7 separate regions of the Homo sapiens genome follow, and regions 2, 3, 4, 5, 6 and 7 are each reported to be linked to region 1. The links are microRNA targets in miRTarBase. Many come from high-throughput screens and were not tested one by one. Region 1 holds a microRNA gene; each other region holds the end of a gene's coding sequence.
Evidence for each region. Region 1 holds the annotated microRNA hsa-miR-192-5p (CUGACCUAUGAAUUGACAGCC, at 2,578-2,598, opposite strand). A microRNA usually pairs through its seed, bases 2 to 8, with sites in the 3' UTR of a target mRNA and lowers its output. Matches are read on the target gene's strand: a 7mer-m8 pairs with bases 2 to 8, a 7mer-A1 pairs with bases 2 to 7 and ends in A, and an 8mer does both.

Region 1 (4,067 bases):
GAGCCAGTGAGTGGGGTAATGGGGGGCGGGGCGGGGGGCCAGGCAGGTGTCCGCGAGGGAGTGACCCTTGGGCAGGTCTTGAGGAGTTCTGAGAGGGGTTGGAGGTGAGACCCAGGCCAGGGAAATGTGCATGGGCCCAGGGCCTGCTGGGTAAAGGACACAGGTCAGTGGGCTCAAGGAGCTGGGGGAGGGTGCTGGATCCGCCTTGCTCATGCATTGGAACAGGTCTCCAATAGCCCTCGCAGGCCTTTGTGGGATCGCAGTGCTCTGCAGAGGCAGATGCAGGAGGACCCCCAGGGCAGGGTGGCTGCTGTCTGCTCCCCTTTCACCCTATGCCAGTGCTCTGAGTCTGAGGCCTGACAGCCCCAAGAGGGTTAGAGTCCAGGGCCCTACCATCCAGCCCATGTATCCTGAACACCTACTATGCTGGTGGGTGGGGGAAGCAGCCAGGGAGGATGAGTAAGTCATGGACCTTGCCCTCAAGGAGTCTGAAACTAGCACAGGATTAGATAAGCACACAGGGCTCCTTAACTCTGTAGGGAATGAGATAAGGGTGGCGGGAGAGGCCCACGAAGCCGGGGTGTGGGCAGAGAGGGGAGCAGCGCCTGCAGAGTCATGGGATGGTCTGCAGGGAGGGGTTGCTGAGCTGGGCCACGGCAGGGGCCAATCGGGGCCCAGGGATTCAGAGCAGCCAGGACAGTGTGAGCAGAGCTGCCTGTGGGAAGGGGAGAGAGACAGTGTCTTAGGGGCCAGATGTTTGTTGGCTGCCTACAGTCCCCAGGAGAAGGTCCAACTTGCTCTGTGACTTCAGCAAATGTGCACCCTCTCTGAGCCTGTGTCCTCCTGTCCCAAACAGGTTCATGATGGATGCCAGGAGGACCAGGTCCTGGATGTGCGTGCCCAGCAGACAGAAAGGGCTCAATAGCCAACGCCTGTTATTAAGCAATTTGACATTTATTCCTAGGTCTCTATTTCCCATTTTACAAATTTTATTTTGTAGTACCAGAAACCTTTTTATTCAAATGAAAAATTCTGACAGGGCACAGTGGCTCATGCCTGTAATCCCAGCAGTTTGGGGGGCTGAGGCAGGACTGCTTGAGGCCAGGAATTTGAGACCAGCCTGGGCAACATGGTGAAACCCCATCTCTACGAAAAATACAAAAATTAACCAGGCATGGTGGCACGTGCCTGTAGTCACAGCTATTTGGGAGGCTGAGATGGGAGGACTGTGTGAGCCCTGGCAGGTGGAGGCTGCAGCAAGCTGTGATTGTACCACTGCGCTCCAGCCTGGGTGACAAAGCGAGCAAGACCCTGTCTCAAAAAAAAAAAAAAAAAAAAAGGAAAATTTCCTCAGAACCCCGTTGTATAAGAAACAGGTGGGGCTGGGCGCGGTGGCTCACACCTATAATCCCGGCACTCTGGGAGGCCGAGGTGGGCAGATTATCTGAGGTCAGGAGTTCGAGACCAGCCTGGCCAACATGGTGAAACCCAGTCTCTACTAAAAACACAAAAATTAGCTGGGCATGGTGGTGCATGCCTGTAATCTCAGCTATTTGGGAGGCTGAGGCAGGAGAATCGCTTGAACCCAGGAGGCAGAGGTTGCAGTGAGCTGAGATCATGCCAGGAGGGGAGGCTTCCTCCTGGGAGGAAGCCTGTTGCATTCCAGCCTGGGCAACAGAGCAAGACTCTGTCTCAAAACAAACAAACAAACACCACAAAGAAATAGGTGGAAATGAGGCTGTTGTGGGAGGCGGGACAGGGGTGGGGTCAGCTGTCCTGTCCTGGGTTGGCTGCTCTTCCTCTACCAGCAGCTGGGGTCCTGGGCCCTCTTAGGAATCCTAGGGGCTGGAGAAGCTGCTCCACCAACCACAGGGCTGTGCTCCAGGGAGATGAGACTGGCAAAGGAGGGGAGAGTAGGAAGCAGATGGGGAGGCTGGCTCAGGGCCCCATCCTGGGTGGGGGGGCTCCAGCACAAACACTGGGCCTAGAGCACTCAGCCCCCCTTGGCCACACTGCATGTCGGTGGGTGCTTCCTCAGGGTGCAAGACAGAGGCTCAGGATTGGTTCAGCAAACATTTATTGGGCACGCGCCTGGGCTGGGAACTGAGCTCACAGATGGGGAGAGGAGCGAGACATAAGCAGAAACCAGCACCGGGGCTCCGAGAGGGCAGTGCTCTGCGGCAGCACTGTGTGGGGGTGCCCAGGTGGGGACTTAGAAGCTTCAATAAGGCCTTCTGGAGGCAGCAAATGCTTGGACAGAGCTTGAAAGGGTTAGTAAGAGTGAGCCTGGCAAATAAGCTAGGAAGAGTATTGCAGCCCAAGGGAACAGCATGGGCAAAGCATAGAGGTGCCACAGGGCAGGCAGGGCAGGGGCAGGACTGAAGCTGTTCAGGCTCATTCACGGGGAATGAGACAGAGGGAGGTGGGACCATGAGTGCTGCACTGGGGTCGCAGGATCTCTGCTGACTGCTGGACACCCCCGGCCCTCCCCTATCCCTGCAGGTCCTGGTGGCTGGCATTGAGGCGAACATACCTGTGACCTATGGAATTGGCAGCCAGAGGGGAGACGAGAGCACTGGCTGTCAATTCATAGGTCAGAGCCCTGTGCACTCGGTCTCGGCAGCCCACCGACAGCCCTCCACTACCCGCCACCATCTGGCCTGGGAGCGTCGCCACGGTAGTCCTGGCTGGTCTGCTGGCCAGCACCTGCCTCTCCTTCTTCGTGGGTACTGGCCCTCGCCCCAGATAACAGCAGCCCCACTGGAACCAGTGGGCACTTCCACATGGAGTTGCTGTTACAGGGGGCGGGAACCAATTGGAGACCGGGGCCCTGCCTGGCGTCCGCCTTCGGCAGGGCTCTGGAGAGTGTCCCATGCCCACTCACCTGGGCTCCCCAGTCTTCGTGGCCCCAGGTCCATGGTCTTTTCACCGAGGCTTCTTATCATCCGGGGCCCACACCTGGCGCCCCGTGTGCTGCCAGCACTCCTTCCTGGGCAAAGTCCAGGCTCAACCCCAAATCGGCCTCATAAAGCCGGGAGCGGCTCGGATTTACAACTCCTGGGCAGCCTTTGCCCGCTCTGATGACCCCACGCCCTCTGTCCCCAAGTTATTTTGTTTCCTTGTTTCTTTCCCAACCAGAGCTGGGCCTCAGTTTCAGGTTTGGCCACTGTCACCTCTGCCCTTTGCCCACCCTCCCTGCTGCAGCCATGGGGCAGAGAGACAGCAAGGGACAGCTGGCACTTGTCAGTCCCCAGGGACCTCCCAGTGCCTGATTTCATGAGGATGGCCTCGTATGGGAAGCTGAAGATGAGACTAAGAAGAAGTGTGGGGGGCTGTGTGGGGGAGGGCACAGAAAGAGGGATAGTGAGGCAGAGGGGCTGAGAGAGGAAGAGAAGAGTAAGGCCGAGGATGGCGGTGCACACCTGGCATCCCAGCACTTTGGGAGACCAAGGTGGGAGGATCTCTTGAGCCCAGGAGTGCAAGACCAGCCTGGGCAACACAGTGAGACCCCATCTCTACAAAAAATAAAAAATTAGCCTGGTGTGGTGATGCATGCCTGTGGTCCCAGCTACTCAAGAGGCTGAGGCGGGGGATCACTTGAGCCTGGGAGGTCGAGGCTCCAGTGAGCTGGGATTGTGCCACTGCACTCCAGCCTCAGTGACAAAGAAAGACCCTGTCTCAAATAAAAATAAGAGGAGCAGGTAGAGAACTAGAAAGGAACAGAGAAAACAAACAGGGATAGTGGATGACGAGGTGTAGGAAGGGGGACGACAGGGAACTGGAAAAGATGTAGATACACAAACCTGCCGCAGAACATGAGGAACAGGCTGTGAGCAGTGGCTCGCCTGGAAGGACGCTTAGGACCTCAGTGGCCTGGAAGACAGCAGGGGCCTGGGAGCTGGGTGACCTTGAGCAAGTAGCGTAACCTCTCTGAACCACTGTCCATATGTCAATCAGGACTTACGAGGCCACCCTGCACGCTGGGCTGGCCTGGTGGGAAGCATCCGCCCTGGGACCCTTGGGTCTCTCTCCGCTGTGGGGAGAGGAAGCAGCTGCTGGCCAGGGTC
Region 2 (4,067 bases), not on the chromosome of region 1:
AAATGCCTGGCACAGTGTGCCCTTGGTAAGCGGTTAAGAAATGTAGTTACTGCTGCCACCATGATGATGATAGTAGTGACTCTCCCTTTTTATCTGTTTTCCAACCCAGGGCCATCCAGGAGAGCCTCCTCACCAGCACAGAAGGCCTGTGCCCCAGCGCCCTGAGCGAGACAAGCCGTTTTGATAATGACTTGCAGCTAGCCATGGAGCTCTCTGCCAAAGAGCTGGAGGAATGGGAGCTCCGGCTCCAGGAGGAAGAGGCTGAGCTCCAGCAAGTCTTACAGCTGTCACTCACTGACAAATAGACCTTTCAGCCTGTGAGCCTCTGCACAAAGCAGAGGCTGTGGGCTGTCACAGATGCTGTGTCAACCAGGGCCCTAGGGCTAAGGGCCTGCACCTTGCGTGCATGCAGCAGGCAACAACTGCCCCTTCTTTATGCAGAGGTGCAGAACCAGGGACTCCTGGGCCCATCCAGGCTGCTCCCTGGGGTGGAGAAGGGACCAGGGATTGCAGGCCCCATCTCCAGGCTAAGGGGAGGAGAGCATCATCACTTTCCATTAGCTGTATTGGCTTGCAGGTCACATTTTTACTACCAGCTTTAGACAAAACCCCAATCCCCGCAGGTTTGTAGATAAATTTTTATCAAGGAGTGATAACAAGACAAGTTATTGCAGAGTCAGGGTGCTTTTATATATAAGAGCAGCAGCCGCCTTTGTAAAGTGTGATCTATGAGAATTGGAGACACTTCTTTACTGTTCACCAAAGAAATGGGTAATCTGTGCTGATCTCCTTATTTTTACCTTTTTACAGGGTTTCTAGGACATTGTCATTATTCTTCCTCCATCTATCTGATTCCATTCCTTCCACACCCAGCTAAAGTTAGAGGAGATACATATAGAATCTATTTTAGATTATTGTTAACTATTTGCATCAAATTAAGATACACAAATGGCCATGGATGTTGCCTTAGCCTTAAACATTACTAATAGTTTCACATCACCTCACTGCACGCATCGAAGGATCTGATTTGAATTTGTAAAGGCAATTCTTTTGAGAGCAGGATTCTCCAGGCTAAATCAAAGGCAGCTAATCCTGTCCCTGAAGGAGCAGCTAGGGGAACCTGAGGCTTGTTCTTGAAGTGGGCAAGCTGGCCAAAATATTGGAACACACAGAACCAAACCAGGTGTGTTCTACACCTGCATGAGTGAAGGATTTCCACGTAGACACCTAGGAAGAGCCCGCATGCCCTAGACTCACTCCAGAGGAAGGATTGATTTGCAACCAGAAAGGGAGCTGAAAACCACGGAGCTCCATGGCTCTTCATTCAAAAGGGAAAATAATGATTCCACGTTGCTTTTTAGAGTTCAAATCAACATCTTTCTGGATAAATCTATTTTTTAACAATCTTTTTATTATTTGTAAAAGATATAAAAACAACTCCCATCAGTAGCAATACAAGGTTATACATTTTAACCAGATTTTCTCAGGCCTTTTTTGGATACCTTTAGTAGTTAACTCTCTTTTGTCAAACCCTCTTGTATATAACCATCGCACAACATACAGAACCCTGGGGAATACAGCCAAGGGCACTGCTCACTGTGGCCCGTGTATTCATTCCCACAGGCTGCACTGAAATAACCTGGTAAACAACACCCTCCTCCATTTTGCGTCTATTTCTTCTATTGTGCTTCTTTGGGGATAGGAAGAGAAACATAACTACTGTTCCAGGTAACGTCTGTATCATACAGTTAGTGTTGCCAGTGAAACGTTCCCAGATACAAAGAATTGTGCTTTTAATTCCATTTCACAATCTGTTTTGTTTTTTTTTTTTGTCATTGTCTGACCAAAATTCCTTCTGCACATGAGGCCAGTATAGGCAACGTCACATTTGTTTGTTTCAAATATGCAGTGTGGTATTTTGTTTACTTTGCATTTACCGTGAGCAAAGATACTTCTTGGAATGGCTGCAGTGAGGCCGTGTCATTGGCTCACAAAAGTGACTCATAGGTAATTTCTGTGTTTGCATTCCACTGCTCTGCTCCCTAAGGTCCTTGACTTTCTCCCCAGGAATTCACTTAAAAAGGGACTGAGCATTGTGTCAACCTGTTGCAGTGTTTTTCATATATGTGTTCACTCTAAAAATGCAAATAAAGACTGCTTCCTTAGAGGGTGCTCATACAAAATTCCAGTCTTTGAGTCTTTTTCCTTTTCAGTTTTTTCTAGTCACTGGATGTACCCACACTTCCTGTTACGTATGTCAGTAGAACATTAGAATGCCTCACTTCGCTCAGTTCATCACTGCAAAGGTGGCATGCTCCTCCCAGCCTTCCTGCCCAGGTTAACAAGCCCCATGCTGCTTGTTTCAAATGGCAACTAAAAGCAAGCCAGTGTTGGGCTGTTCTGACACCTCTGTGGTCCTCCTGGAGGGGAACTGGCTCTTGTGGGGTAAGGGAAGCCCAGCCAACATCAAAGCTCTGCATCAATGCTATCCCTTGAAGCCAACTGCTTTGTGAGGCTGTTCCTAGAAGTCCAGATGATAAGGCTTCCAAACTCTTCCTATATCTAAATAAGCGGGTATTAAAAACAACAAAGGCAGTGGCCAGTAGAAATGTATGGGTTCCAGAAATGAGGCTGTATTTCTGGGAAGATGTAAAGGAGCTGCTTTGCTTTTAGGGGAAAGTAGATATCAATACTTTGAAGCCACAAGGACACTATGAAGAAAACCATTACTCTTTCAGGTCAAGAGGTGCAATGACTATGGATTATTTAAAAACTGAAAAGCTAAGCTTGAGTGGCCCAATATCAGCAGGAAGTGGTTTTTTTTTTTTGTTTGTTTGTTTTCCTGAGACGGAGTTTTGCTCTTGTTGCCCAGGCTGGAGTGCAATGGCGCGATCTTGGCTCACTGCAACCTCTGCCTCCCGGGTTCAAACGATTCTCCTGCCTCAGCCTCCCGAGTAGCTGGGATTACAGGCGTGTGCCACCATGCCTGGCTTATTTTTGTATTTTTAGTAGAGACGGGGTTTCACCATGTTGGCCAGGCTGGTCTCGAACTCCTGACCTCAGGTGATCCACCCGCCTCGGCCTCCCAAAGTGCTGAGACTACAGGCATGAGCCACCGCACTCGGCCAGAAACTTTAATTGAGCAACTTCTGCACGTTAGACACTGCTAGGAACTAAGTTCCTAAGGCACTCTGCTCTATAAACAAGCTTGTCACACTACATAAACGTGGCATGTCAAGGGATTGAAAGTCTGCTCTAAATAATGACAGGAAAGGGAAACTGCCATAACTGCCAGCTTGGTCGCAGTCTCCTGCTGACCACAAATGACATCAAGGAAGATGAACTGGATGTGGAGATTTCAAGTGATTCAGTGGTACAGTGAGTGATGAAGTTCAAAGTACCACCTAGGCCTCTGTTTAGAAATATGTGTAGGTTTAAGCCTGAGGTCCAGGTGGAAAAAAATACAACATGCTGATATGACTCCACAGTCACTAAATCATAGGCAGCACTAGGAGACTTTTATCTCAACTTTAGGCCAGGCGCAGTGGCTCACGCCTGTAATCCCAGCACTTTGGGAGGCCAAGGCAGGTGGATCACCTGAGGTCAGGAGTTTGAGACCAGCCTGGCCAACATGGTGAAACCCCATCTCTACTAAAAATACAAAAAAATTAGCCAGGCATGGTGGCTCATGCCTGTAATCCTGGCTACTCTGGAGGCTGAGGCAGGAGAATCGCTTGAACCCGGGAGGTGGAGGTTGCAGTGAGCCAACAATGCACCATTGCACTCTAGCCTGGGCAACAGGAACCAAACTCCGTCTCAAAAAAAGAAATTTCACTTCACAGAGCTTCTTTAAGTGATTAGATCAAATTCAGACACACACCTGCATTTCAAACACTTGGGAAATAACTGGTGGAGTAAAACAATATATAGGATTTTACTTTAGTTTTAATTGACGTTTTGCTCAAAAGCAAAGAACTGAACATTTCAATGGTTCAATGTTACAAGATTACAAACAAAATCCTTACACAGTTACAGTATCCTACTTCGGTTACTTCACATTAAATGCA
Region 3 (4,067 bases), not on the chromosome of region 1:
CCAGGATGGTCTCAATCTCCTGACCTCGTGAACCGCCCCTCTCGGCCTCCCAAAGTGCTGGGATTATAGGCGTGAGCCATCGTGCCCGGCCAGCCCCTTCTTTTTAAACATAGGACCTGAAATTGTCACGTCAGTGAATGGACCAATCAGAGGCATGAGCACTTTGCATGAATGGTGACATAATAAGCTGACTTCTAGAAGTTTTGTTGAAAAATCATACTTAAATATGACAAAGAAGGAAAACCAATGAGCCCCCATGACATGAGGGGATGAATGAACCAAAGAGAATGTTTTAGGTTAAAAATAATAAACCTGAATTCACAAAGGTTTTTAATTTATTCCATATATATCTTACATAGCAGCTTAAAGTAATCTATTATTTTTAGGCTTTATTGATTCTTTTGAATCATGAAATCAAGACTTATTACCGCATGATTTTGTAAAAATATCAACCTCAATTATTTTTCTCATCAATGTTAAAATATCCCAACCACAGGAATCTAAAATAATGAAAAAAAATAGGCTGAATTTTGACCTTTTTAATAGTTGGAGTGTAATAAGGGTGAACATCTAGGAATTATGTAATACTTGGAAAACCTTCTAAAACATCCAAGTACTATGGCTGGGCATGGTGGCTTACATCTCTAATTCCAGCATTTTGGGAGGCCAAGGAAGGAGGATCACTTGAGCCTAAGAGTTCAAGACCCCATCTCTACCCAAAAAATAAATTAGCCAGGAAAGGTGGCATGCACCTGTAGTCCTAGCTACTCAGGAGGCTGACGTGGGAGGATTGCTTGAACCTAGGAATTCAAGGCTGCAGTGAGCCATGATCATCCCACTGTTCTCCAGCCTGGGTGACAGAGCGAGGCCCTATCCCAAAAAATTAAAAAATTAAAAAAAAACAACAGCCAAGTATACCATGATGTTTAATCCAACTGACTTTTCCTCTGGCCATGCAGGCAACCGGGTGCAGACACAGCGGTATCCTGTGTCTGGTCGCAGAAACACCTCCATCACAACATTTTGGCAGAAGGCACTCAAACCAGACCCCAACACAACTGGTGACCGCCCTCAGAAACAGCTCAATCTAGTCTTACAAAGCACTTTTAATAAATGACATCTAGATGTACTTCTCAACCATATCATTACAAATCAAATGTGAGTTGGGGAAGTGTAAAAGTTTACACTTTTGTTTGAAGCAAAAGGACTTTCAGAGCATTTTCCAATTCATATATCTTTTCTAAAAGGGAGTGGAGCCTTATGTTCTATTCTTAGAGCAGAAATTCTAGTTTTTGAAAGAGATGCGGATCAGCTCAATTTTAGAACAAGTATGGGAAAGTTGAATAATCTTTCTGAACACGTTTGTGCAGCTCACGCCCTAGGTACGAGATATTAGACGCTAAGCCCAGACCCTGGTGGAGTCAACAGCAGGCCCTTTATCCTGGAGATCTAGAACAGGCATGAGGCCCAGCGCATCCTCAACTGCACATGCTGAGAACCTATGAGCTTGAGATGCAGACGGGAACGGCATCAGTCACAGCTATAATTAACCAGGGCTGGGAAGACATTCACTCTTTAAGAACAATGGCTTTTCTGCTTCTGGAGTGTGTGTGTGTGTGTGTGTGTGTGTGTGTGTGTGTTTCAACAGAATTTGAATACTATTCTTCCTTTTTAAATAAGGAGAATGCATGTAAGTAGTACATCCCTCCTCCCACACTGGAAATAACAGATAGTAGAAAATGTATGTTAATTTAAACCCCAACTAGTAGTTGAGATAGACAAAAAAAAAAACCCACATTTTTTTTTTTGCAAAGTAACTCTTATGAAATAATGGACCCTTTTGGTAATTATCTTCCAAACTCTCAAAATAACTGCATTAAAAAGTACTTACTTTGCCCATGAACACAGCAAACAAATACAAAAACAAAGATTTGGAACTGCTAAAAATATCAAGGACAGGATGCAGACAATTACGATGTCAAGTTATTTATACTGTTAGTAGTTAATGTAAAGACATACACTAAAACTACTCCAAGAATGGGACAAATACGTGGATTTGTAAAATTTTTTTTTTAAGACTGATGACATGGGGGATTTCGCTGGTTCTCATAACCCAGCATCTATTTGGGGGTATCAGTGGGGCCTGGAGGCAGTGGGAGAAAACAAACTTCACAGGGCAGATGCTGCTGGGACCAGGAAAAAGGCTTCATGCCCTAAGGTCCTCACTGTCGTACAGCCCAGTGCAAAGTATCATTCATTCATGACAGATGCATGACGACATGAAAGTCAATATACACAGTTAACCCATTTTGACACATTCATTCCTCAGCATTTTTTCAATACAATTCATCTGAAATTATACTAAGACATAAAACAGACCTGCTTTTGTACATCCATTACTGATATGTCTCCCAGGGTCAGGCAGAAGGAACCAGAATGACTGTCACACAACTGCTAATTGTCGAGACCTGAGACGGACTCACCCATGAGTGCTCCTGCATGCCAGGTACTGCTTGTCGACTCGTGCACACTGGACTCAAAGACTTTTGAAAACTGCTCTTGCCCCTGAAACCTAAAACTCCACGGCCTGTCCTTCAGAATCACTGTAAATCTTTCCAATGATGGACGGATGAATGCCTTCAATGATTAGTTAATCCCATACACTTGGATAGTACGTGTCCGTCATTCCCACCTGGCTGAGGGGGCCCCGGAACAGACTGGTCAGAGGCAGGGCAGTCATGTGGGTGCGGCTCCCAGAGGAGGGCCCAAGTGCAGAAATATCTTCAACTTTTAATATCATCAGAAAATATCTTCAACTTTTAACCCCAGGACAAGAAGTCAGTTGCGAAGTGCACAAAAGAAACACACTGTGGCTCTCCCATCCCCCAGCAGTATGGAGCAAAGACATAGAAAATCAGCAGTGACTAGACAGAATATGTGGCAATGCTTAGGGCAATCTGTTACCCAACACTGAACATCTTTAAATTCCATTCTGGGGAGTCTAAGATGTGTTTGATATCAGACATAAAAATTTACGTGATAAGTAGGAGTCACTTCAAGTTCTAGGTTCATAGGTACCAAAGTGTGTAGCAAAGAAAAAGAACTTTTATTTCTTCAGTAGTTTCTAATGCAGACAAATGTGACAAGGCAGGGAGCTGAGCTGACCCCAAGCCGAAGGGTCCCGACTCCTCTCGGGAGCCTGGAGGAGTCCCGGTAGCGAATAGATCAGATGCCTCATCCTCGTTCACCCCAAAAGGCTGAGACCCTGGTGTGTCCTCCTCGAGGACCCTCCCTGTTTCTGGGTGCTAGAGGCCGTTGCTGTTTCTGTGACAGAGGGATGGCTTTGGGAGCTCCACAGTACCTGACCGAGGTTTGTTGAGGAACTTCGGGGCACGACGCAATAGCCGCTGGGCCTCCTTGAAGGTTTCGTTCAACTCTTTCTTCCACTGCACAAACTCTGGATCACTCTGAGGGGGAATACAAAGGCAGCCGTTGTGACAGGCTCACCCATTTTGCCAACAGCGGAGGCTGCCCCTATTGATTACCAGCGTCCCTGGAACCCCTGAAGGAAGCACACCCTACGTGTCCACCCCCAGTGGCATTACTAGCTGATGGGTCACGCTGCCACCTTCTCCAGAATCTCTTGAAAAGAGCAGGGAAAGGCCACATTAAAACCCTTCAGATGATTCCAGTACAATCCCACTCTGAGAATCACTGCCTTTAATTTGTTTAGAGATTACTTTTGATTTCTAAAACAACTGAAATCTATAATAATATAGGGGAAGGAGTTTTGACAAATTAAAAAATGTTTTAAATATATATTCATGTATGTAATGTAGTACTGATGTTAGTAAAAATGATTTTTTTGCATCTAATACGTGTTTATTTCTCTAAATATGCTCTCTTAAAACACACACACTAGTGAACCAGTCACAAAGTGTCCAGGAATGAAATTTGTGTTACAATGTAACTTTGAGGAAAAGATGGCATTTTCGTTTAGAGAAGATGGCATTTCAGTTTGCCGTCTTATATTTATCTAAATATATAAACCTTAACATCGAACATGC
Region 4 (4,067 bases), not on the chromosome of region 1:
ACCTGGGGCCACCGTCTCCTGCCCTACCTGAGCAGGAGTTCCATGGGAAACCTCTATGTAGAATCGGCTGCGGCTGCCCTTGTGTTGGTCATTCTCATCCAAGTTATCTCCCATGTACCTCTGAGGTGGGGCCCAGGGTCCACATCAACAAGCAGCTGACGACCCCTCAAGCACCATCACTAGAGTGTGGCTGGTGGTGGGGCCCCCTCCTAACCATCTCCCACCTCCCCACAGGACTCAGGACACCCCTGCACGGCGGCCGACCCTGACAGCTGCTTCACGCCTGTGTCTCCGCAGCACTTCATCGACCTCTTCAAGTTTTAAGGGCTGCCCCTGCCATCCCTATTGGAGATTGTGAATCCTGCTGTCTGTGCAGGGCTCATAGTGAGTGTTCTGTGAGGTGGGTGGAGACTCCTCGGAAGCCCCTGCTTCCAGAAAGCCTGGGAAGAACTGCCCTTCTGCAAAGGGGGGACTGCATGGTTGCATTTTCATCACTGAAAGTCAGAGGCCAAGGAAATCATTTCTACTTCTTTAAAAACTCCTTCTAAGCATATTAAAATGTGAAATTTTGCGTACTCTCTCTCTCTATATATATAGTTCAAAAATACTTTAGGTGGTCAGCTCCACATTCTTTGTTGACGTGACACTAACGGCCAATAATATGCTTCTTAATTATCAAATTATAGTTTCCCAATTGGGAAACTAATTGGGGGTGGGTTACAAAACATTTGATCCTTGTAAATACATTGTACAGAATATTTATTTTTTCTCAAAATGCATTTTAACTACTACATTGGCTGTGCCCAAATGAGTCCTCTTTGAATAGAAAGTGAACCCAGGGCAATGACAGCCATTCTTGTCTTAGGGATTATGGATCGGGGTATGAAGTGTGCACACGCAGCCCAACAACGGGCAGTGGTCTCTGTGCTCCTAGGCATCCAGCACAGGTTCTGGCAGGGCACCCCTGCTGGGGTTGGGGGCTGGTCTGTGCATAATCCTGGACTGTGATGGGAACAGCCCAGTGCAGTCTAAACTTCAATTGTGTTGAAACTACTTTAATAGACAAAGTAATAAATCATGTTTATCTATTGATTTAAACTTCATCAGTTTTGCATCCTACTGAGAAATGTTAGTGATTTTGATACTTAAATCCTTAAAAGATTGCTTCGTTTTTAAAATAACGCATGTCCATTTTAGAAAATTAGAAAATCAGTCCCACCACCCAAAGATTATTGTGCATGCTGAAAAGAGTATGAAAAATCCCCTCAGCAGGCATAGGATAGAAACGTATTGTTGTATATTTCCATTTTTGAATAGGGTCAAGGAGCCCAAGCAAATCATTTCTACTTTTTCCTTTAAGCATAATAATAAAAGTATACTTTTATGGCGTTATAAATAGGACTAAAAAAAGATTCTGGATTTTTCAGCCCCACTTCTGTGAACTGACACAAATGGCCAAGAATGCATTTATTTGTCAAATTATAGTTTCTCCTGAGGCGATGCAAATACCTGGGGCCTCTGCGAATATATGTTAGTTTTTCATAAGACCATAAATGTCCCGTATACCACTGTTACTTCACAACGCCCCCCGTCCCGACCCTGCCTTTTTTTAGAAACGTAGAACCATATCCTAAATGTTATTTGGAAACTTGGCTTTTATTAGCTCCACAGAATCACCCAGATGGAACAGGCTTTTTCATCACAACATATTGGGGTTCCTGAGTGTCTCGCCGTTAGCATCAATAACTATGATAAGCATCGTCACACAACAATGTGGCCGTCTCCTTACAACCACTGGTAGTACAGCCAACATCATGAGTCAAACATATTTTAAGGCTTTTAAATATATTTCTAGATTGTTCATGAAAAAAAATTTTTTTGGAGTTTGTTTTTGAGACAGGGTCTTGCTCTGTCACCCAGGCTGGAGTGCAGGGGTATGATGTCGGCTTACTGCAACCTCTGTCCCCCAGGCTCAAGTGATCCTCCCACCTCACCCTCCAGTGATCCTCCCACCTCAGCCTCCCAAGCAGTCAGGACCACAGGCATATACCACCATGCTCAGCTGTTTTTTTGTATTTTTAGTAGAGATGGGGTTTCACCATGTTGCCCAGGCTGGTCTCAGGAGTTTGAGCTCAAGCAATCCACCTGCCTCAGCTTCCCAAAGTGCTGGGATTACAGGCATGAGCCACCACGTCCAGCTGAGAAAAGAAATTGTTCTAATCTAGGAAAGGGAGTAAGTACATTGAGTTTCCATTATCCCTGAAGCACAGGTATTTCTTTTTCTGTTGGTGCTGTTTTAATAAGTGAAGAATTTGATGTATGATAAATTGTGAGCTTGAATATTTCCATATATTTATTATCCATTTGCTTTTCTTGTTTTTGGTAAATTACTTAATGTGGTATTTGCCTGTTTTTTGGGGTGGATGTCAGTCTTTTTTCATGTTAGTTTCTTCTTAAAAGGAAACTATCCTTTTGAAGTTGTGGTTCTTTCCCCTAATTTGTCATATACTGTTACTGTCATTTAATTGTTAGATGTTATAACAGTTCTCAGCTGTGCTATCAAATCACAGATGTGCATTTAACTTGTATAAATTGAGCAGTACTTGCTTGGAAAACATAACCATATTAATAGTGTAGGATTCCAGCTGTTCTGCTGGGCTGGCATATTTCCACAGGCCATGGACACAGCTAGCCGCATTGCCACTGCATGGGTCACAGCCTCCTGCAGGTGCGTTCGAGGGACAAGCTGTGGGAGCTGGGCAGGTAAGCAGGGATGGCTTACATTGCTGGGGAGAGATTGAAAGGTTAATGGAGGGTATAAGGACAGAATAAAGACAATTTTGAGGCACTGATCAGTTATTTACAGAAGATCGGACAACACCAAACAGAGATGAGAAGAGAAATCATAGATCTCCACTTTGGAATGGTATTTTTGAATACAGTTTCTATCAGGGGGCCTTCCAAAAGTAGGGATGCCACTCCTGTGAGATTAAGTTACATTCTGATGCCTTCATTACAATGAAGTAGATAATTCAGGACCCCAGGAGCCTAAAGCCAGGTAGTAAGTTTCACTTGCCCATCGCTCCTGTGAAAGGCAATGCCAGACACTCTCAAGATAGAATCTCCAGTCATTCTCGGACCTGTTCTCAGTCTGCGCTGCTCACTCAGGGCTGGTGTCTCTTGACACCCAGTTACAACTTCCTTTTGCCTATTTTGAGTCAAAAAGTCACATTCCTCACCTAATTTATGAATACACACAAATTGGAAAGCCATGCAGTAGCCTCTCAGGAGCAGACCGATTTGTAGCTGTCGTGGTTTACTGCATGACGTACAGGCTCTCTGTATGCACTGTGTGTGCGTACTGTACAGGGCTGTACACAGCAAACTGTGTCTACTTTATGGAAAAAATTTAACCATCTGTGAACAGTTTTTTGCCTTAAGTGCTGCTTTTAGAACCAAACTGTCATATAAGATTTATCAGCTCTTTTAACACCTTTGTAGATTCCTGATGCTGTGTACAAAATCATGTCATCTATGAATAGACAGTTTCACTTCTTCCTCTCAGTCTAGATGTCCTTTATTCTTTCTTACCCCGTTTCGCTGGCTAGAATCTCTAGTACAATGTTGAATAGCAGTGCGAGAGTGAACATCCTTGTCTTGTTCCTCATCTTAGGGGAAAGCTTTCAGTCTCACCATTAACTATGATGTTAACCCTGGGTTTTCCATACATACCCTCTATTAGGTTGGGGAGGTTCCCTTCTATTCCTAGTTTGTTTTTATCGTGAAAGGGTGTGGATTTTGTCAAATGCTTTTTCTGCATCTCTTAAGATAATGTAGTTTTTGGCCTTCATAAGATCATGTGCTGTTATTACATTGACTGATTTCTATATCTTGAACCAACCTTGCATTCTTGGGTCAAAGCCCACTAAGTCATGGTTTATGATACCTTTTATACATAGCTGTTAGATTTGGTGTGCTGGAACAGCCAGCCCTCTGTATCCACGGGGGATTGGTTCCAAGACCCCCACCCCCACCCCACCTGCCACCCACCACCTTGTGATCTCTTG
Region 5 (4,067 bases), not on the chromosome of region 1:
TGAAAGATACAGAAAAACAGGTATTTCTGGAAATCTGTAACAAAAAACTTTCGCAATAGTTGAGCATTCTATTTAGTTCCGAGTTTCTAGACAACAAAGAACAAAAGGAAAAATACTGAGTTACTGTTAGGAAATAACACAGCTGACTTGATTGAACCCATAAAGTTGTAAACTCTTACTGCGTGTAATACAATACTTATTCCCTCTTTCTTTTCTTTTTCCAAGATAAAGTGAAATCTTTCCGTGCAGCTCTACAAGAGGAGGAACAAGCCAGCAAGCAAATCAACCCGAAGAGACCCCGTGCCCTTTAAACCGGCATTTGCTGCTAAAGGATACCCAGAACCCTCACTACTGTAACATACAACGGTTCAGCTGTAAGGGCCATTTGAAAGTTTGGAATTTTAAGTGTCTGTGGAAAATGTTTTGTCCTTCACCTGAATTACATTTCAATTTTGTGAAACACTCTTTTGTCTACAAAATGCTTCTAGTCCAGGAGGCACAACCAAGAACTGGGATTAATGAAGCATTTTGTTTCATTTACACAAATAGTGATTTACTTTTGGAGATCCTTGTCAGTTTTATTTTCTATTTGATGAAGTAAGACTGTGGACTCAATCCAGAGCCAGATAGTAGGGGGAAGCCACAGCATTTCCTTTTAACTCAGTTCAATTTTTGTAGTGAGACTGAGCAGTTTTAAATCCTTTGCGTGCATGCATACCTCATCAGTGATTGTACATACCTTGCCCACTCCTAGAGACAGCTGTGCTCACCTTTTCCTGCTTTGTGCCTTGATTAAGGCTACTGACCCTAAATTTCTGAAGCACAGCCAAGAAAAATTACATTCCTTGTCATTGTAAATTACCTTTGTGTGTACATTTTTACTGTATTTGAGACATTTTTTGTGTGTGACTAGTTAATTTTGCAGGATGTGCCATATCATTGAACGGAACTAAAGTCTGTGACAGTGGATATAGCTGCTGGACCATTCCATCTTATATGTAAAGAAATCTGGAATTATTATTTTAAAACCATATAACATGTGATTATAATTTTTCTTAGCATTTTCTTTGTAAAGAACTACAATATAAACTAGTTGGTGTATAATAAAAAGTAATGAAATTCTGAGAAGAGTTTTATCTTAGGAAAATACATATATATGCAGTGTGTGTGCCAGTGTGGTATTAACAAGACTAATAGTGCAGTTTGATCCTTACCAATATCATTACTTAATTTGAAGTGTTCATTAGCACCCCAAAATATACCTTTTCTATGTACTGTTAAAAGAAATTGGCTTCTGATGCATGAACATTTACATGTACATTGAAAGTAGTCCATAATAGAAGTTAGTTTAAGCCAAGTGTAGACAGTACATTACTCCCTTGAAAAAGAATTAAGTTGAAAGAGTTGACTTTGCCTTAAAAGGCAGATCTAACCCAAGCTCCATCCAGTACCAAATGTGAAACTTCATTGTTGTTTGGTGAGAATCGCCAAATTCTCACTAATACATTGGTATGGTGTAGGGCATGCTACTTTTTAAACAGCAGCACTTATTTTTACAGATTGCTACTCCAAGGAAGAAAACTGGCCACTTTTCATGTAAATATTTTGTTCAAAGATTTGTATATCTCTCTAGGAGTTTTCCCTCAGTTCCCAGGATGGGGTCCAGGAGTAGATTAACAGCTAAAAATCTCCCAAGGATATCTTGTTTTGATTTATTTACTCCAGGGAACTATCAGCTCCTTCACAGGAGCCAAAGGGGAGCTATGAATAGAGGGTCACATGAGCCAGATTCTTTACTGTTCATAAAACCCAGAGAGTAGTTGTGAAAGATCCTAATACAATTGTGAAAAGCTCTGTAAACATGAAATCTAAAACAAATGTAGATTTTCACAATATGCTTATTAATAAATGAAGTCTATGGAATAAGTTTTAGAGATAATTTACTTCAGTCACCTTTGTTTTGGAAAGGACTCAGGTTTTCTTGCAGCTGTAAGATATATTCTATTTGTGTTTATTTCAAAGGGAAGAGGAAGGATGGAGAACTGTTACAATTGACCTTGCAAAGGATATTTAAAAAAAAGGTAGTTTTTGAGATTAACCAACTTTCAAAGGGCAATAAAGACATGTGAATTTGCTCATTTTAAAGCACAACAGATGATTAGCTTCAAATTTATTATTTGCATTGGATGGGTACTGTCTTTGGAAAGTCTCCTTATAGACAAATATGCTGCCTTACACTATGATGGCTTCATTCTGATCAGGTATTTTAAAAATTAGTACCAGAAAAGATACTGGAGGTAATATAATACAGTCCTTCAGCTTTACAGATAGTGAAAACTGAAGGCCAGAAAAGGAACTAAAACTCAGCAGTTCATAGGGGTAGAGGGAAATAACCTGAGAAAGCCGAGTTAAATCTTAAAATTTTTACTATAAGGATAGAGATGATACAAGTGAACTCTGCAAAATAGTTTTGTGAAATTAAACAAAAAAATCTACTCTTAATGTATATTATTTCATATTTGTTTAACAAAAGCAGCTTGATGCCTTTGTTCTGGATTATACATTAAGAACAAGCATTATTTTAATTATGTAGTAACATTTACTATGACTTTGAAGCCAGATTTCAAAATCTGGCTTTGTTAAATTAATTGGAAACACTCTTCTATTAAGTTAGGTATTAAAAAAAGCCAAATATCAATAAAGATATTTTTATTAATTTTTTATAGAAACAAAATAGCTACTATAACTCTATTATAGTATATTAACAGCACTTAGTATTATATTGACTTAAACATAGTAGCTAATAAAACTAGTTTATGACATCTATTGAAATTCTCAGTCTGACAGTTTTAAAATAGCTTAAAACTAAGCACCAGGTATATGAAAAAGGAACTGGAAATTTTAATTGTCCAGAAATCATAGGAATACTGGGAACCTGTAGTTATGGGAAATGGCTGTTTTTCTGAAGTTGAAACCAGTTTCAATTACAAAACCCTCTGAAATTTTGCTAAGCCTATAGTTATCTCCCTAAGAACCATAAAAAAAGATAATTTTATTGTTAATTTCATTCCAGTTTAGCTTCCTCATTTTACATGTTGGGAGTCATGCCCTTTAATATGCCTGGCACTGCACGGTGGCAGTAGCAGACTTGGGCTTACCCAGAACCCTAAGTCTCTGACGCTATAGGATAGCGAAAGAGGTAGGCAATCGTAACAGACACTGTATAGGATAAATAGGGAAGAGAATGAGAGAACCAAAATAAAAATAATTTAAGAAACAATTGTTTTACTGTACATGTGAATAACAAGAAATGGTACGGGGAATGTGAATAACACGAAATGGTATGGGGAATGTGTGACTAGTGAAGCATATTTTAACTTTTTTATTACTGGAGGAACAGAGCTAAAGGCCTAAAGAAGGCCTTACAGTATATAACAGTAAATAGAAGAGTAACATCTTTATACAATAAACTGTTAGAAATGATAAGTGTAAAGTTGTGCGTCTCTGCGGCTCCTGAACTTGAAGATTATTATGAATAGATTGGACCAGCATTATATATTAAAAACTTTGATACTTAGAACTTTCCAACTTTAAAATTCAGAATCATAAATGGTGACAACAGTAGTAGTATTGAACCAAAAATAGTCAAGTAAATAATGTCTCAGTAAAGCAAAAGCATTATCTTCTCAAATACAAAAAATACAAAATTCATTTCTTTTCTTGACCTTGAAAATTTCTGTTTTCCAAATACCTAGGAAAAATGAATACCTTCTGCGTTGAATCCATGTAGCAATCTGAAAAAAGAAATCAAAATGGAATGGTACTGAAAAGCTAATTTGTAGCACATAACGGTATATAGTTCTATACCATTAATACTAAAACATGAATACAGCATGCTTACAGAGCCCACCCACTCCTAATACTAGTTATTAAAGAAACGTTACTGGCTGGGCGCAGTGGCTTATGCCTGTAATCCCAGCACTTTGGGAGGCTGAGGCGGGTGGATTACCTGAGGTCAGTAGTTCGAGAACAGTCTGGCCAACATGGTGAAACCCCGTCTCTACTAA
Region 6 (4,067 bases), not on the chromosome of region 1:
TCACCGTGTCCACGCCTGCTCCGGCAGTGGGAGCTCAGGTCCGTGGGGGTGACCGCGGGGAGCTCAGTGCCAGGCTGTCGGGGGCGTCTTGGAAAGCAGAGGTGTCCCCACAGGATCTCTGAGAGTCTGTGTGGTCCGTGGCCGCGCTGGGTTCCCCGGAGCAGCGCCCGACGTCACTGCCGAGACCTTAAGGGAAGGCGCGCGTCCAGTCCTCGCACTGCTGCGTGTTCTGGTCAGAACGGAAGTGGTAGCCTCCACTGGGAGCTTCTGTGCTTTGGGAGAATGTGTCTAAACTGTGGTCCTGTTTGTTCTCCAGTCCTGTGTGGACACCACGACCCAGTTGTAAACACAGGTCCCGTGCAGCTCGCTTTGGGGAAGAGGCGCGCCCGCCCAGGTCCTCTGTGTGTAGCTCACGCCCGGGGCTCCGTCCCGTCCTGGGTGGGTTTTCACCTGCACCGCAGGCCCCTCCCCCGGGAGCATTCGTGGAGCCGGCGTCCTCAGCCAGGAGCGCGTTGCTGGCTCAGCGGCTGGAGCTCAAGGTCGGCTCAGGGGACTGTCTCGTGCTGGAGGTTGGCGGCCGAGCAGCCTGTGTTTCCCGGAAAACGGCCCAGGGCCTGCTCCGCGCTGCTGGCCACGTCTTCGCCATCCCCTCGTTGCAGGTTCGAGGCCGAGCTCAGCCCTGTGGAGCAGAAGCTGAGTGCGCTGCGCTCCCCGCTGGCCCAGAGGCCCTTCTTCGAGGCGCCCTCACCGCTGGGCGCCGTGGACCTGTACGAGTACGCATGCGGGGACGAGGACCTGGAGCCGCTGTGACGCCGCCCGCGAGAACGCCGCCGCGGGGCCGCTCCCCACGTGCCACCACCGGGCCACCGCGGCTCGTGTAAAAACTGTTGTGGAAAATGAGTGCGTTTGTACGGAATGATAAACTTTTATTTATTCACAGAAGCGTGTTGATTGCCGCTGTGGGTTCGTGGCTGGACCTGCCCAGAGCTCTGTGCCAGGGGGACACGTAGGGCCGCGCGTGAATGGGACGGGTTCCCACACGGACACCCTCTGGCGCTTGCCGTTCCCGACCCAGCCTGGGTTCCGGGGCCTGCGTCTGTGGAAAGGGTCCGTGTGCGCACAACGGTGACCGGCGGCTCCCGGGCGCCTCAGTCCTGGACAGGAGCCTCCACCACAGGCTGTGTGAATGTTTTGTGTAAACGTACAAAACCGTTTCTGGCGATCACGCTTGTACGTTTGGAGGATTTTCAGTCACGGGCTCGGCTCCCTCAGCCACAGCGTGGCTCCGTCCAGGATTTACAAGCGTCAGTGCTGGAGGGGGACCGCAGCCACGCCAGACGCCTCGGGGTGCAGCCTGGGCCTCTCTGCGGGGCCCCTCCCCAGCCAGGGGGACCCCACCCTCGGGGCCGTTCCCTCCCGGAGCCACGGACCCAGGCCCCGTTCCACAAACGACCCCAGAAGGAAGGAGCCCGCGCCAGAGTGGGGACGTCCACAGCTGGGGGACACCTAAATGAGGGGGGTCGGAGGCCCCACCAGGAGGAGCTCCCTGTGCAGGGGAGGCCACAAGCACCCCAGGGGCACCCGACGTGGATGAGCCCAGGCCCAGCTGTGCTCCCTCTGCACGCAGGTGAGGGTCACAGGTGGTGACCATGGGAACAACCCCGTCCTCACACACGACAAAACTCTCCCCCAGGAAACGGAGGTGGCAGCGTCCACGCGGCAGGGCAGGGCCAAGCCGGGACCACCCCGAGAGCAGCATACGCACCCCGTTCATCCACCGGCAGCCGTCGCTGTGAAGGAGGCGGACGCACAGGGTGGTCCCGTGACCCCTGAGGAGAGACTGCGGGGGCTCCAGGTGGTGGGTAGACGAGGCAGCACCTCCCGGGGGAATGCTGCTGTCCCCAAGGTGTCCTCAGTGTCACCAGGTGCTCCCCTGAATTCCCGGATGCCCCCACCTGGGTCTGCGAAGGGTCAGGACCCCCAACAACAGGACAGGTGCAGGGCAGGAGGTTCTGCCGCAGGGAAATGACACTGGGAGCCACGGCCCGCAGGGCCCACCCTGCCCTCAGCTCCGGGGAGCCCGTCTGGGAGACCATGTCCGCCCCACACCACCTCCGGACACCACCCCCCAACACACACACACCTATGAGCCGGAGCCCATGGTCATGGGAGGGCTCTGACCAGCGCCCTCAGCCTCCCCACACTGACACTGGGAGCCCCCCCAATTAGGGTTCAAGGCTGAGACATGAGAGGCCTCCCTGGGGCCGTGAAAGACAGCGTCCCCCACCCACGACGCTGGTGAGGCCCCTGCACAGCCACTGAGCATCCTCCGACATCCCTGTACCCAATGCATTCCCCCAAGTGCCCCGTCCTTCCCCAGCCACAACCCCAGATGCCCCGGGCAGTGCCGGGGCCGGGCGTGCACACCGACACCTTTGCCGGAGAAGTGGGGGGGTCCTGTCGGGGGTCCTCGTGGACGGCGGCGCTGCGGGGAGACCCAGAGCCCAGCAGTCATGCCCTCCACGTGTTCTGGGGGTCCATTCCCCCGAGGGCTCACGTGTGCAGGGGGCCAGGGACCCCACAAAACAAGCACTCGGGGCACCCTGACCGTGGCCAGCGTCCCGCCAGAAGCCAGGATGTTCCAGGGCTCAGCGCCTCACCCTCTGAATGACAATCGTGGGTCCCCCGCACTTCGTGGCCGTCACCCCTTGGAGATCCCCGAGCAGGGACCCGACCCAGCCCACCCCTCCCCTCCCTCACGGGGTGCCTTCGTGTCAGAACCAAGAGTGTTCACAGGGGCAGCCCCGGGTCCACCCAGGAGCAGCAGCATGAGCTCTGTTCCGGGAGGACCATGAAAGGTGCCAGCCACAGCCCTGAGGTCCCGGGGCACCTCCTCACGGGACAAGACACAGCTGCTCAAGGCGCAGCAGGGGTGACCGCCGGCACCAGACCGGCATCCACAGCGCTGTCCTGAGGGGCGGCAGGGACAGTGATGGCAAGACGGGCTACCCAGAATAAGGGGACCCAGCCTGGTGGGGGGGACGGGGCCCGGAGAGCCATGAGACGGGGGAGACAGAGGAGATGGAGAGGGGGAGATGGGGGAGAACTGGGGGGCCTCAGATACAGGGGATGAGGCAAAGCCGGACCCAGCCATGGCCTGCAGCCCTGAGGTCCCGGGGCGCCTCCTCGTGGGACAGGACACAGCTCCTCGAGGTGGAGCCGAGGTGACGGGGAGCAGAGGTGACGGGCACCACAGGTTCCCAGCACTGGCACCAGACCGGCACCGAGAGCCCCGCCCAGAACAAGGGGGGACCCAGCCTGCGGAGGGACGGGGTCTGGACAGCCACGAGACGGAGGAGACGGAGAAGGGAGAGATGGAGGAAATGGAGACGGGCAAGACGGAGGGGAGGGAGGAGATGGAGAAAGGGGAGTTGGGGGAGAACGGGCGGGCATCAGATGCAGGAATGAGGCAGAGCCAGACCCAGCCGCGCTCAGCAGTTCCTAGAGAAGACACGGCTCCCGGGGGAGCGGGAGGCCTTTATGACTCAGAGCCGGGGAAGGAGCAGAGGCCGGAGGTCGTCCCCAGCACGGTGCCCACGGGCCGCCCTGCCCAGGCCGAGGGGTCGGACCCCACACGGCACAGAAGCCCCGTCTGCCGCAGCCCCGAGACACACATCCTGTGGCTGACAGCGGTGCGGCCCCTGGGCCGGCGCAGACCCCACGTGGCACAGACGGCCCCGCTGGGTCTCAAGCCTGCAGACAAGGCCACGCACCCGGCAAGACGCTGCTGCGTGGCTACAGCAGAGGGGCCTCGAACCACGTTCCCCATGACCCACGGGCAGACCCTGGCACAGCAGGGATCCCTGCGCCCTGGCGCCGTGTAGAAGTCACAGCTCCCCCAGCCTTGGCTGCCGCACACGCCACTCAGAGCCTGGGGAGCAGCCGTTCGGGTCTCGGTGAAACAGCGGCCCCAGGACGTGTCTGCGCAGCTCCTAGGCGGGGGCTGCCCCGGGTCTTCCGCACGGGGGCCTGGCCGTCGGCTGCAGCCTCCCCCGGCCCCGTGTCCT
Region 7 (4,067 bases), not on the chromosome of region 1:
TTGTAAGATACATTGTGAGATTGTTTAGGCATAATCGTATATTGGAAGTCATTTAGGACGCATCTTTAATGAAGACAGATGATGTGCTATTGATGTGAATGTTGTATTTCCCAGCTTGAAGTACTTTCTCACATGACTTTGCATAATTGCTTAGTTGTAGTTTTATGTTGGAAGTGACTTTAGCACGTTTCTAGGGAAGAGATGTTTTGCCACTGAGTGATTTTCCACACTGACATGCTTTTTCAGATGAATCCTAAGATTCACCTTGATTTTATACATTCAAGCCTGAACATTAACCGCTCCCTGGGAACGTGAGTCACCTTTGATTCCTGGGCTTCCTCCAGGACACGAACACTAGGAAGCCAATGTTTCAAGGAGAATTTGACTCAGATTCTTGGCTCTACTGTAGTGTATGTGACTTTTAGACCCTTGCAAGGTTCAAGAGTACTGGGTTTCAAAAGCTATAATGTGACCAAAGTCAGGCTTAAAGCTGCAGAAGCTCATTCCACACCCTGAAAACTTTTCTGAACTCTACATTGAAAGTCTGTTAAAATGTTCCTTAAAACCTTTAAAGGTGGACTTAAGAACAAGAAGTAGAGTTGTGAGCTAAGGCTGGCAGGGTGGGGGAATGGGAGGATGAGACAAATATCAGAAGGATTAGGAAAACCGAGTAGAGGACCTTGAAAATGCTGTTGTCTTTCTTTGCCCCATCCCCTCTCCTCCACCATATTTCTGTCTTTTACCCTTAGGCCTGCACTGCCTGAAAAGAAGGTGGCTGATCTGAGCACTCTGAATGAAGTGGGCTATCAAATCCGAATTTAGCCAAGCCATACCGGCCAGCAAGAGGGTTTCTGTGGTGCTTCTCTCTGCACTTTACCCAGCATCTTCAGGAGGAACTGCAACTATTTATTAAGAACTTGTGAATTTTATTTTTAAGGATTCACCTGGAAATAGAATCTGAGTGGGTGGTAACCATTAGCTTTAAAAAATTCACTAAAAGGCACCATGAAAAGGCTGAAGTAATAAGCCCCACTGGGGTTGGACTATGTCCCTCACTCAAGATCTTAAGGATAACCGTAACTGAAGTTTTATATTTTTCCATTTACCTACTTTCTTTTACTTGCTTTGAACATTATGCCTCACCAATAGTAAATGTTCATGAAATAATCTCTTGAACTTTTGGTATAGTAAGGTAACTCTAACAGTATTACTGTCTTTTTCAGCAATAACAGAAAGCAAAAATGGGTGGGTTTTTTTTAAGCAGTTATTACCTCAGCATTTTGACATCAGATATGCAAACTTAATGGCGTTTTGTTTTTTTATATTCTATTTGTATTCTTTCCCCAGTATTTCCCATGGGGATCTCCACAAGTTTGGAGTTTTTTCCTGGTGCACACACGTGAGGAGATTTAAGGTACTATATGCAAGTGTTTTACTAAAAAGCACTGAAATTCTTCTGGCAATACAAGAACCATTTTCAGGATCTTGGAGTTACTTCCTTCTTAATCTTTCTTAAAGCATTCACTGATGTTTTTGTTTTTTCAAAATGAAACAAAAATATCACATTGAGAAGCTAGTCTATGTTCTGTCACTAACATTTAAACTTTGCAGACTCTAACAAAAAGCACAAGAGGTCACGTACTATTATACAAATTTAGCGGTACTGGATTTACCTCTGACATTAACACACTCAGGCAGAGACCAGGAGTGATCAGCAGGTCTTCAGAACCAAAAAACCTTTCTGTTCACATTTCATCTGATTTTTAAACTGAGGCAGGCTTTGATTCTTCTGAAGGATGCCAAGAATCAAACTAAGGGAGGACTCACTGTTAAAGATGTGTTCTGATGTCTTATATTAAGACCAAATGTGACATGATGTGATTATCTTCCAGTACTTTGCTTTTAGGTACCATTTCATGACATTTTAGGAATGAGTATTGGAAAATATAAAGAATTAGAAAAGCAGCACTTTTTTTTTAATGGAAAAGTCTTCGGTCCAGTGTTACACCTTATAGTGTAATTCAGTCCCTAAGCACAGAATGAATGTCTGGCCTGCATATGGTAGTTACAGTGTAACCTCTGGCTGCAGACCACACAGGACAACCCTAACAGCCTAGTCTTGTATGGTGTAAATATCAAGAGTACAGCTTCAATTTCATTTGCTTTATCTTAGCAACAATGCCAACTCAGGAGAGCAGACGGCCGATTTCAGTGAAGTCTGGTAGTCAACAGATGTTATTTCAGTCTCAGTGCATCTCCTCTGGCTTTCTTTGACTGAAGGTGTTTATAGGAAGGAAGTTAAAAAAAAAAAAAGCTCATTGAGATTCTTTACCAATTCTTTACAAGATTTCTGGGGGTGACAGGGAAAGCAAAAGGACTTCAAAGCAAAAGGGTGCACAAGAGCTTACTTCACCCTGAAAATCAGTATTATTAATGAAAAGTACTGTTTTCTTAAAGAAGTCGAATGTCCTTTAGATGAACAAGACCAAGTATACATCTCCATTAGATTAAAATGTAGCACAGGGTTAAAAATTATCAGTTTAATCTCTTTAAGAACAGTATTATCAGAGTTTAAAATGAGTTAGCTCTGTTTATCTACACACAGCAAACCCATTCGCAGCCTCTTGGCCACATGTATTCAGATGTTTGAAATAGTGAATCATTTCATTTTCATTCTAAAACAATACTGACTTAGCCATATACCTTCTGTTTGTCAATCTGAAACTTGCTTACATCTAATAAGTAGACCTCTTATAACACTGCAACCATTCTAAGAGTTGGAATTTATTTTTGCCAAGTATTAAGTACTGTTACATCTAAAATACAGAATGTCAAATGGTTGCATAGCTTGTTTCCCACAACAAGGAGGAAAAGAACAGGAATACAAACTCTGTAATATGCTGATAAAGAAGCCTTAGAACTGCCAACTGGCTTGATGGTTCAATTAGTAAGCTAATTTCTCCCACACCCGCTCCTTGATTTTTAGACTAATTTTCCCAAAGCAAGGTTTAGTCACACAAACTTGAAAGTACATTTAAAATGTTCTTAGTTGTCATCCTACTTTTATTGCCTATGGAATATGCTAATTTCTAAAAAAAATACGGGAGAGGCACCAAACCCCTAAATTCTAGTGCAATAATTTAAAAAACAAAAAACAAAACAAAACAAAAAACATGTTATATGCACCCCCCTCCCAAAGCTGATTTTAAGACTGGCTAGAATTCAAAATATAAAAAATAAAACTATGAAGTGATTTGAAATCGGTTTTAAAAAGTTGTTAGTGCAAGAGAAATTTTATGTTTAAGCCATCATGGCAATATATGCAAAGTTTAAATGAATGACAGAAATCTTGATTTTAGACTGTATGTTGTGCTGTTTTGAGTACACTTTATTTCGGAGATATTTAGTATTTTCTATACACTCTGAAATCATGAGCATTTCACTTTTTCTAAGTCAATTATTTCATAAGGATTTTATTAATAGATATTGGTAAATAGAACTTTGGAAATCTTAATTCAGAATTCTTACTATACCTGAGTCTTTTGTAAGCTATAGTTTTATGTACAACCTTGTACAGTTTTTTTGACATACAATTCAGAACTTTGTTTATTCTCTTGGACTTTGTTCTGGCCAATACATTTTTTTTAAATCTTTAAGAAGAACTGTGATTGTTTTAGTGGGTATTTTTCTAATTAAATGAAAACTTGTATAATGGTATTTTAGAGAATGCCAGTAAGTGCATGTTTCAAGTTAATGTTTTTCTCATCACTTGTATGTTTCTAACACAGCATGGGACTTTAATAAAACCATCCTGGAAACTTAAGGATTGTTTTTCTTCTAAATATGTAAGATGTGGCCGGGCTCAGTGGCTCAAGCCTGTAATCCCGGCACTATGGGAGGCCAAGGCGGGTGGATCACCTGAGGTCAGGAGTTCGAGACCAGCCTGACCAACATGGTGAAACCCTGTCTCTACTAAAAATACAAAAAATTAGCCGGGCATGGTGGCGGGCGCCTGTAATCCCAGGTATTTGGGAGGCTGAAGCAGAAGAATCGCTTGAACTTGGGAG

Region 2: miRTarBase lists ANKRD13A as a target of hsa-miR-192-5p. The part of its 3' UTR that is shown has no 7-base or 8-base seed match.
Region 3: miRTarBase lists GRK3 as a target of hsa-miR-192-5p. Seed matches in the 3' UTR shown: 7mer-A1 at 531-537.
Region 4: the mRNA of FBXO25 is a reported target of hsa-miR-192-5p. The part of its 3' UTR that is shown has no 7-base or 8-base seed match.
Region 5: the mRNA of DIMT1 is a reported target of hsa-miR-192-5p. Seed matches in the 3' UTR shown: 7mer-A1 at 3,721-3,727 and 7mer-A1 at 2,052-2,058.
Region 6: miRTarBase lists PPP2R3B as a target of hsa-miR-192-5p. The part of its 3' UTR that is shown has no 7-base or 8-base seed match.
Region 7: miRTarBase lists VASH2 as a target of hsa-miR-192-5p. The part of its 3' UTR that is shown has no 7-base or 8-base seed match.

The regions. Positions count from the first base shown.
Region 1 is chr11:64,888,626-64,892,692 of GRCh38, forward strand. MIR192 (microRNA 192) reads right to left here and starts at 2,621; the gene lies at 2,512-2,621. MIR194-2HG (MIR194-2 host gene) reads right to left here. Exons shown (of 3, transcript NR_133640.1): 2 at 3,965-4,067; 3 at 1-715. MIR194-2 (microRNA 194-2) reads right to left here and starts at 2,814; the gene lies at 2,730-2,814.
Region 2 is chr12:110,037,250-110,041,316 of GRCh38, forward strand. ANKRD13A (ankyrin repeat domain 13A) reads left to right here. Exons shown (of 15, transcript NM_033121.2): 15 at 110-2,514. The coding sequence ends at 305. It overlaps C12orf76 (chromosome 12 open reading frame 76), which reads right to left. Exons shown (of 2, transcript NM_001389625.1): 2 at 3,928-4,067. Among named protein-coding and RNA genes, the nearest start is that of C12orf76, 9.2 kb to the right of the region's middle.
Region 3 is chr22:25,721,689-25,725,755 of GRCh38, reverse strand. GRK3 (G protein-coupled receptor kinase 3) reads right to left here. Exons shown (of 21, transcript NM_005160.4): 21 at 1-3,467. The coding sequence ends at 3,306. Among named protein-coding and RNA genes, the nearest start is that of MYO18B, 18 kb to the left of the region's middle.
Region 4 is chr8:468,481-472,547 of GRCh38, forward strand. FBXO25 (F-box protein 25) reads left to right here. Exons shown (of 10, transcript NM_183420.2): 10 at 235-4,067. The coding sequence ends at 324. Among named protein-coding and RNA genes, the nearest start is that of FBXO25, 64 kb to the left of the region's middle.
Region 5 is chr5:62,385,259-62,389,325 of GRCh38, forward strand. It overlaps DIMT1 (DIM1 rRNA methyltransferase and ribosome maturation factor), which reads right to left. Exons shown (of 12, transcript NM_014473.4): 12 at 1,996-3,794. The coding sequence ends at 3,752. It overlaps KIF2A (kinesin family member 2A), which reads left to right. Exons shown (of 21, transcript NM_001098511.3): 21 at 226-4,067. The coding sequence ends at 311. Among named protein-coding and RNA genes, the nearest start is that of DIMT1, 17 kb to the right of the region's middle.
Region 6 is chrY:331,110-335,176 of GRCh38, reverse strand. PPP2R3B (protein phosphatase 2 regulatory subunit B''beta) reads left to right here. Exons shown (of 13, transcript NM_013239.5-2): 13 at 660-1,244. The coding sequence ends at 810. Among named protein-coding and RNA genes, the nearest start is that of LINC00685, 14 kb to the right of the region's middle.
Region 7 is chr1:212,987,763-212,991,829 of GRCh38, forward strand. It overlaps VASH2 (vasohibin 2), which reads left to right. Exons shown (of 8, transcript NM_001301056.2): 8 at 750-3,823. The coding sequence ends at 822. Among named protein-coding and RNA genes, the nearest start is that of ANGEL2, 26 kb to the right of the region's middle.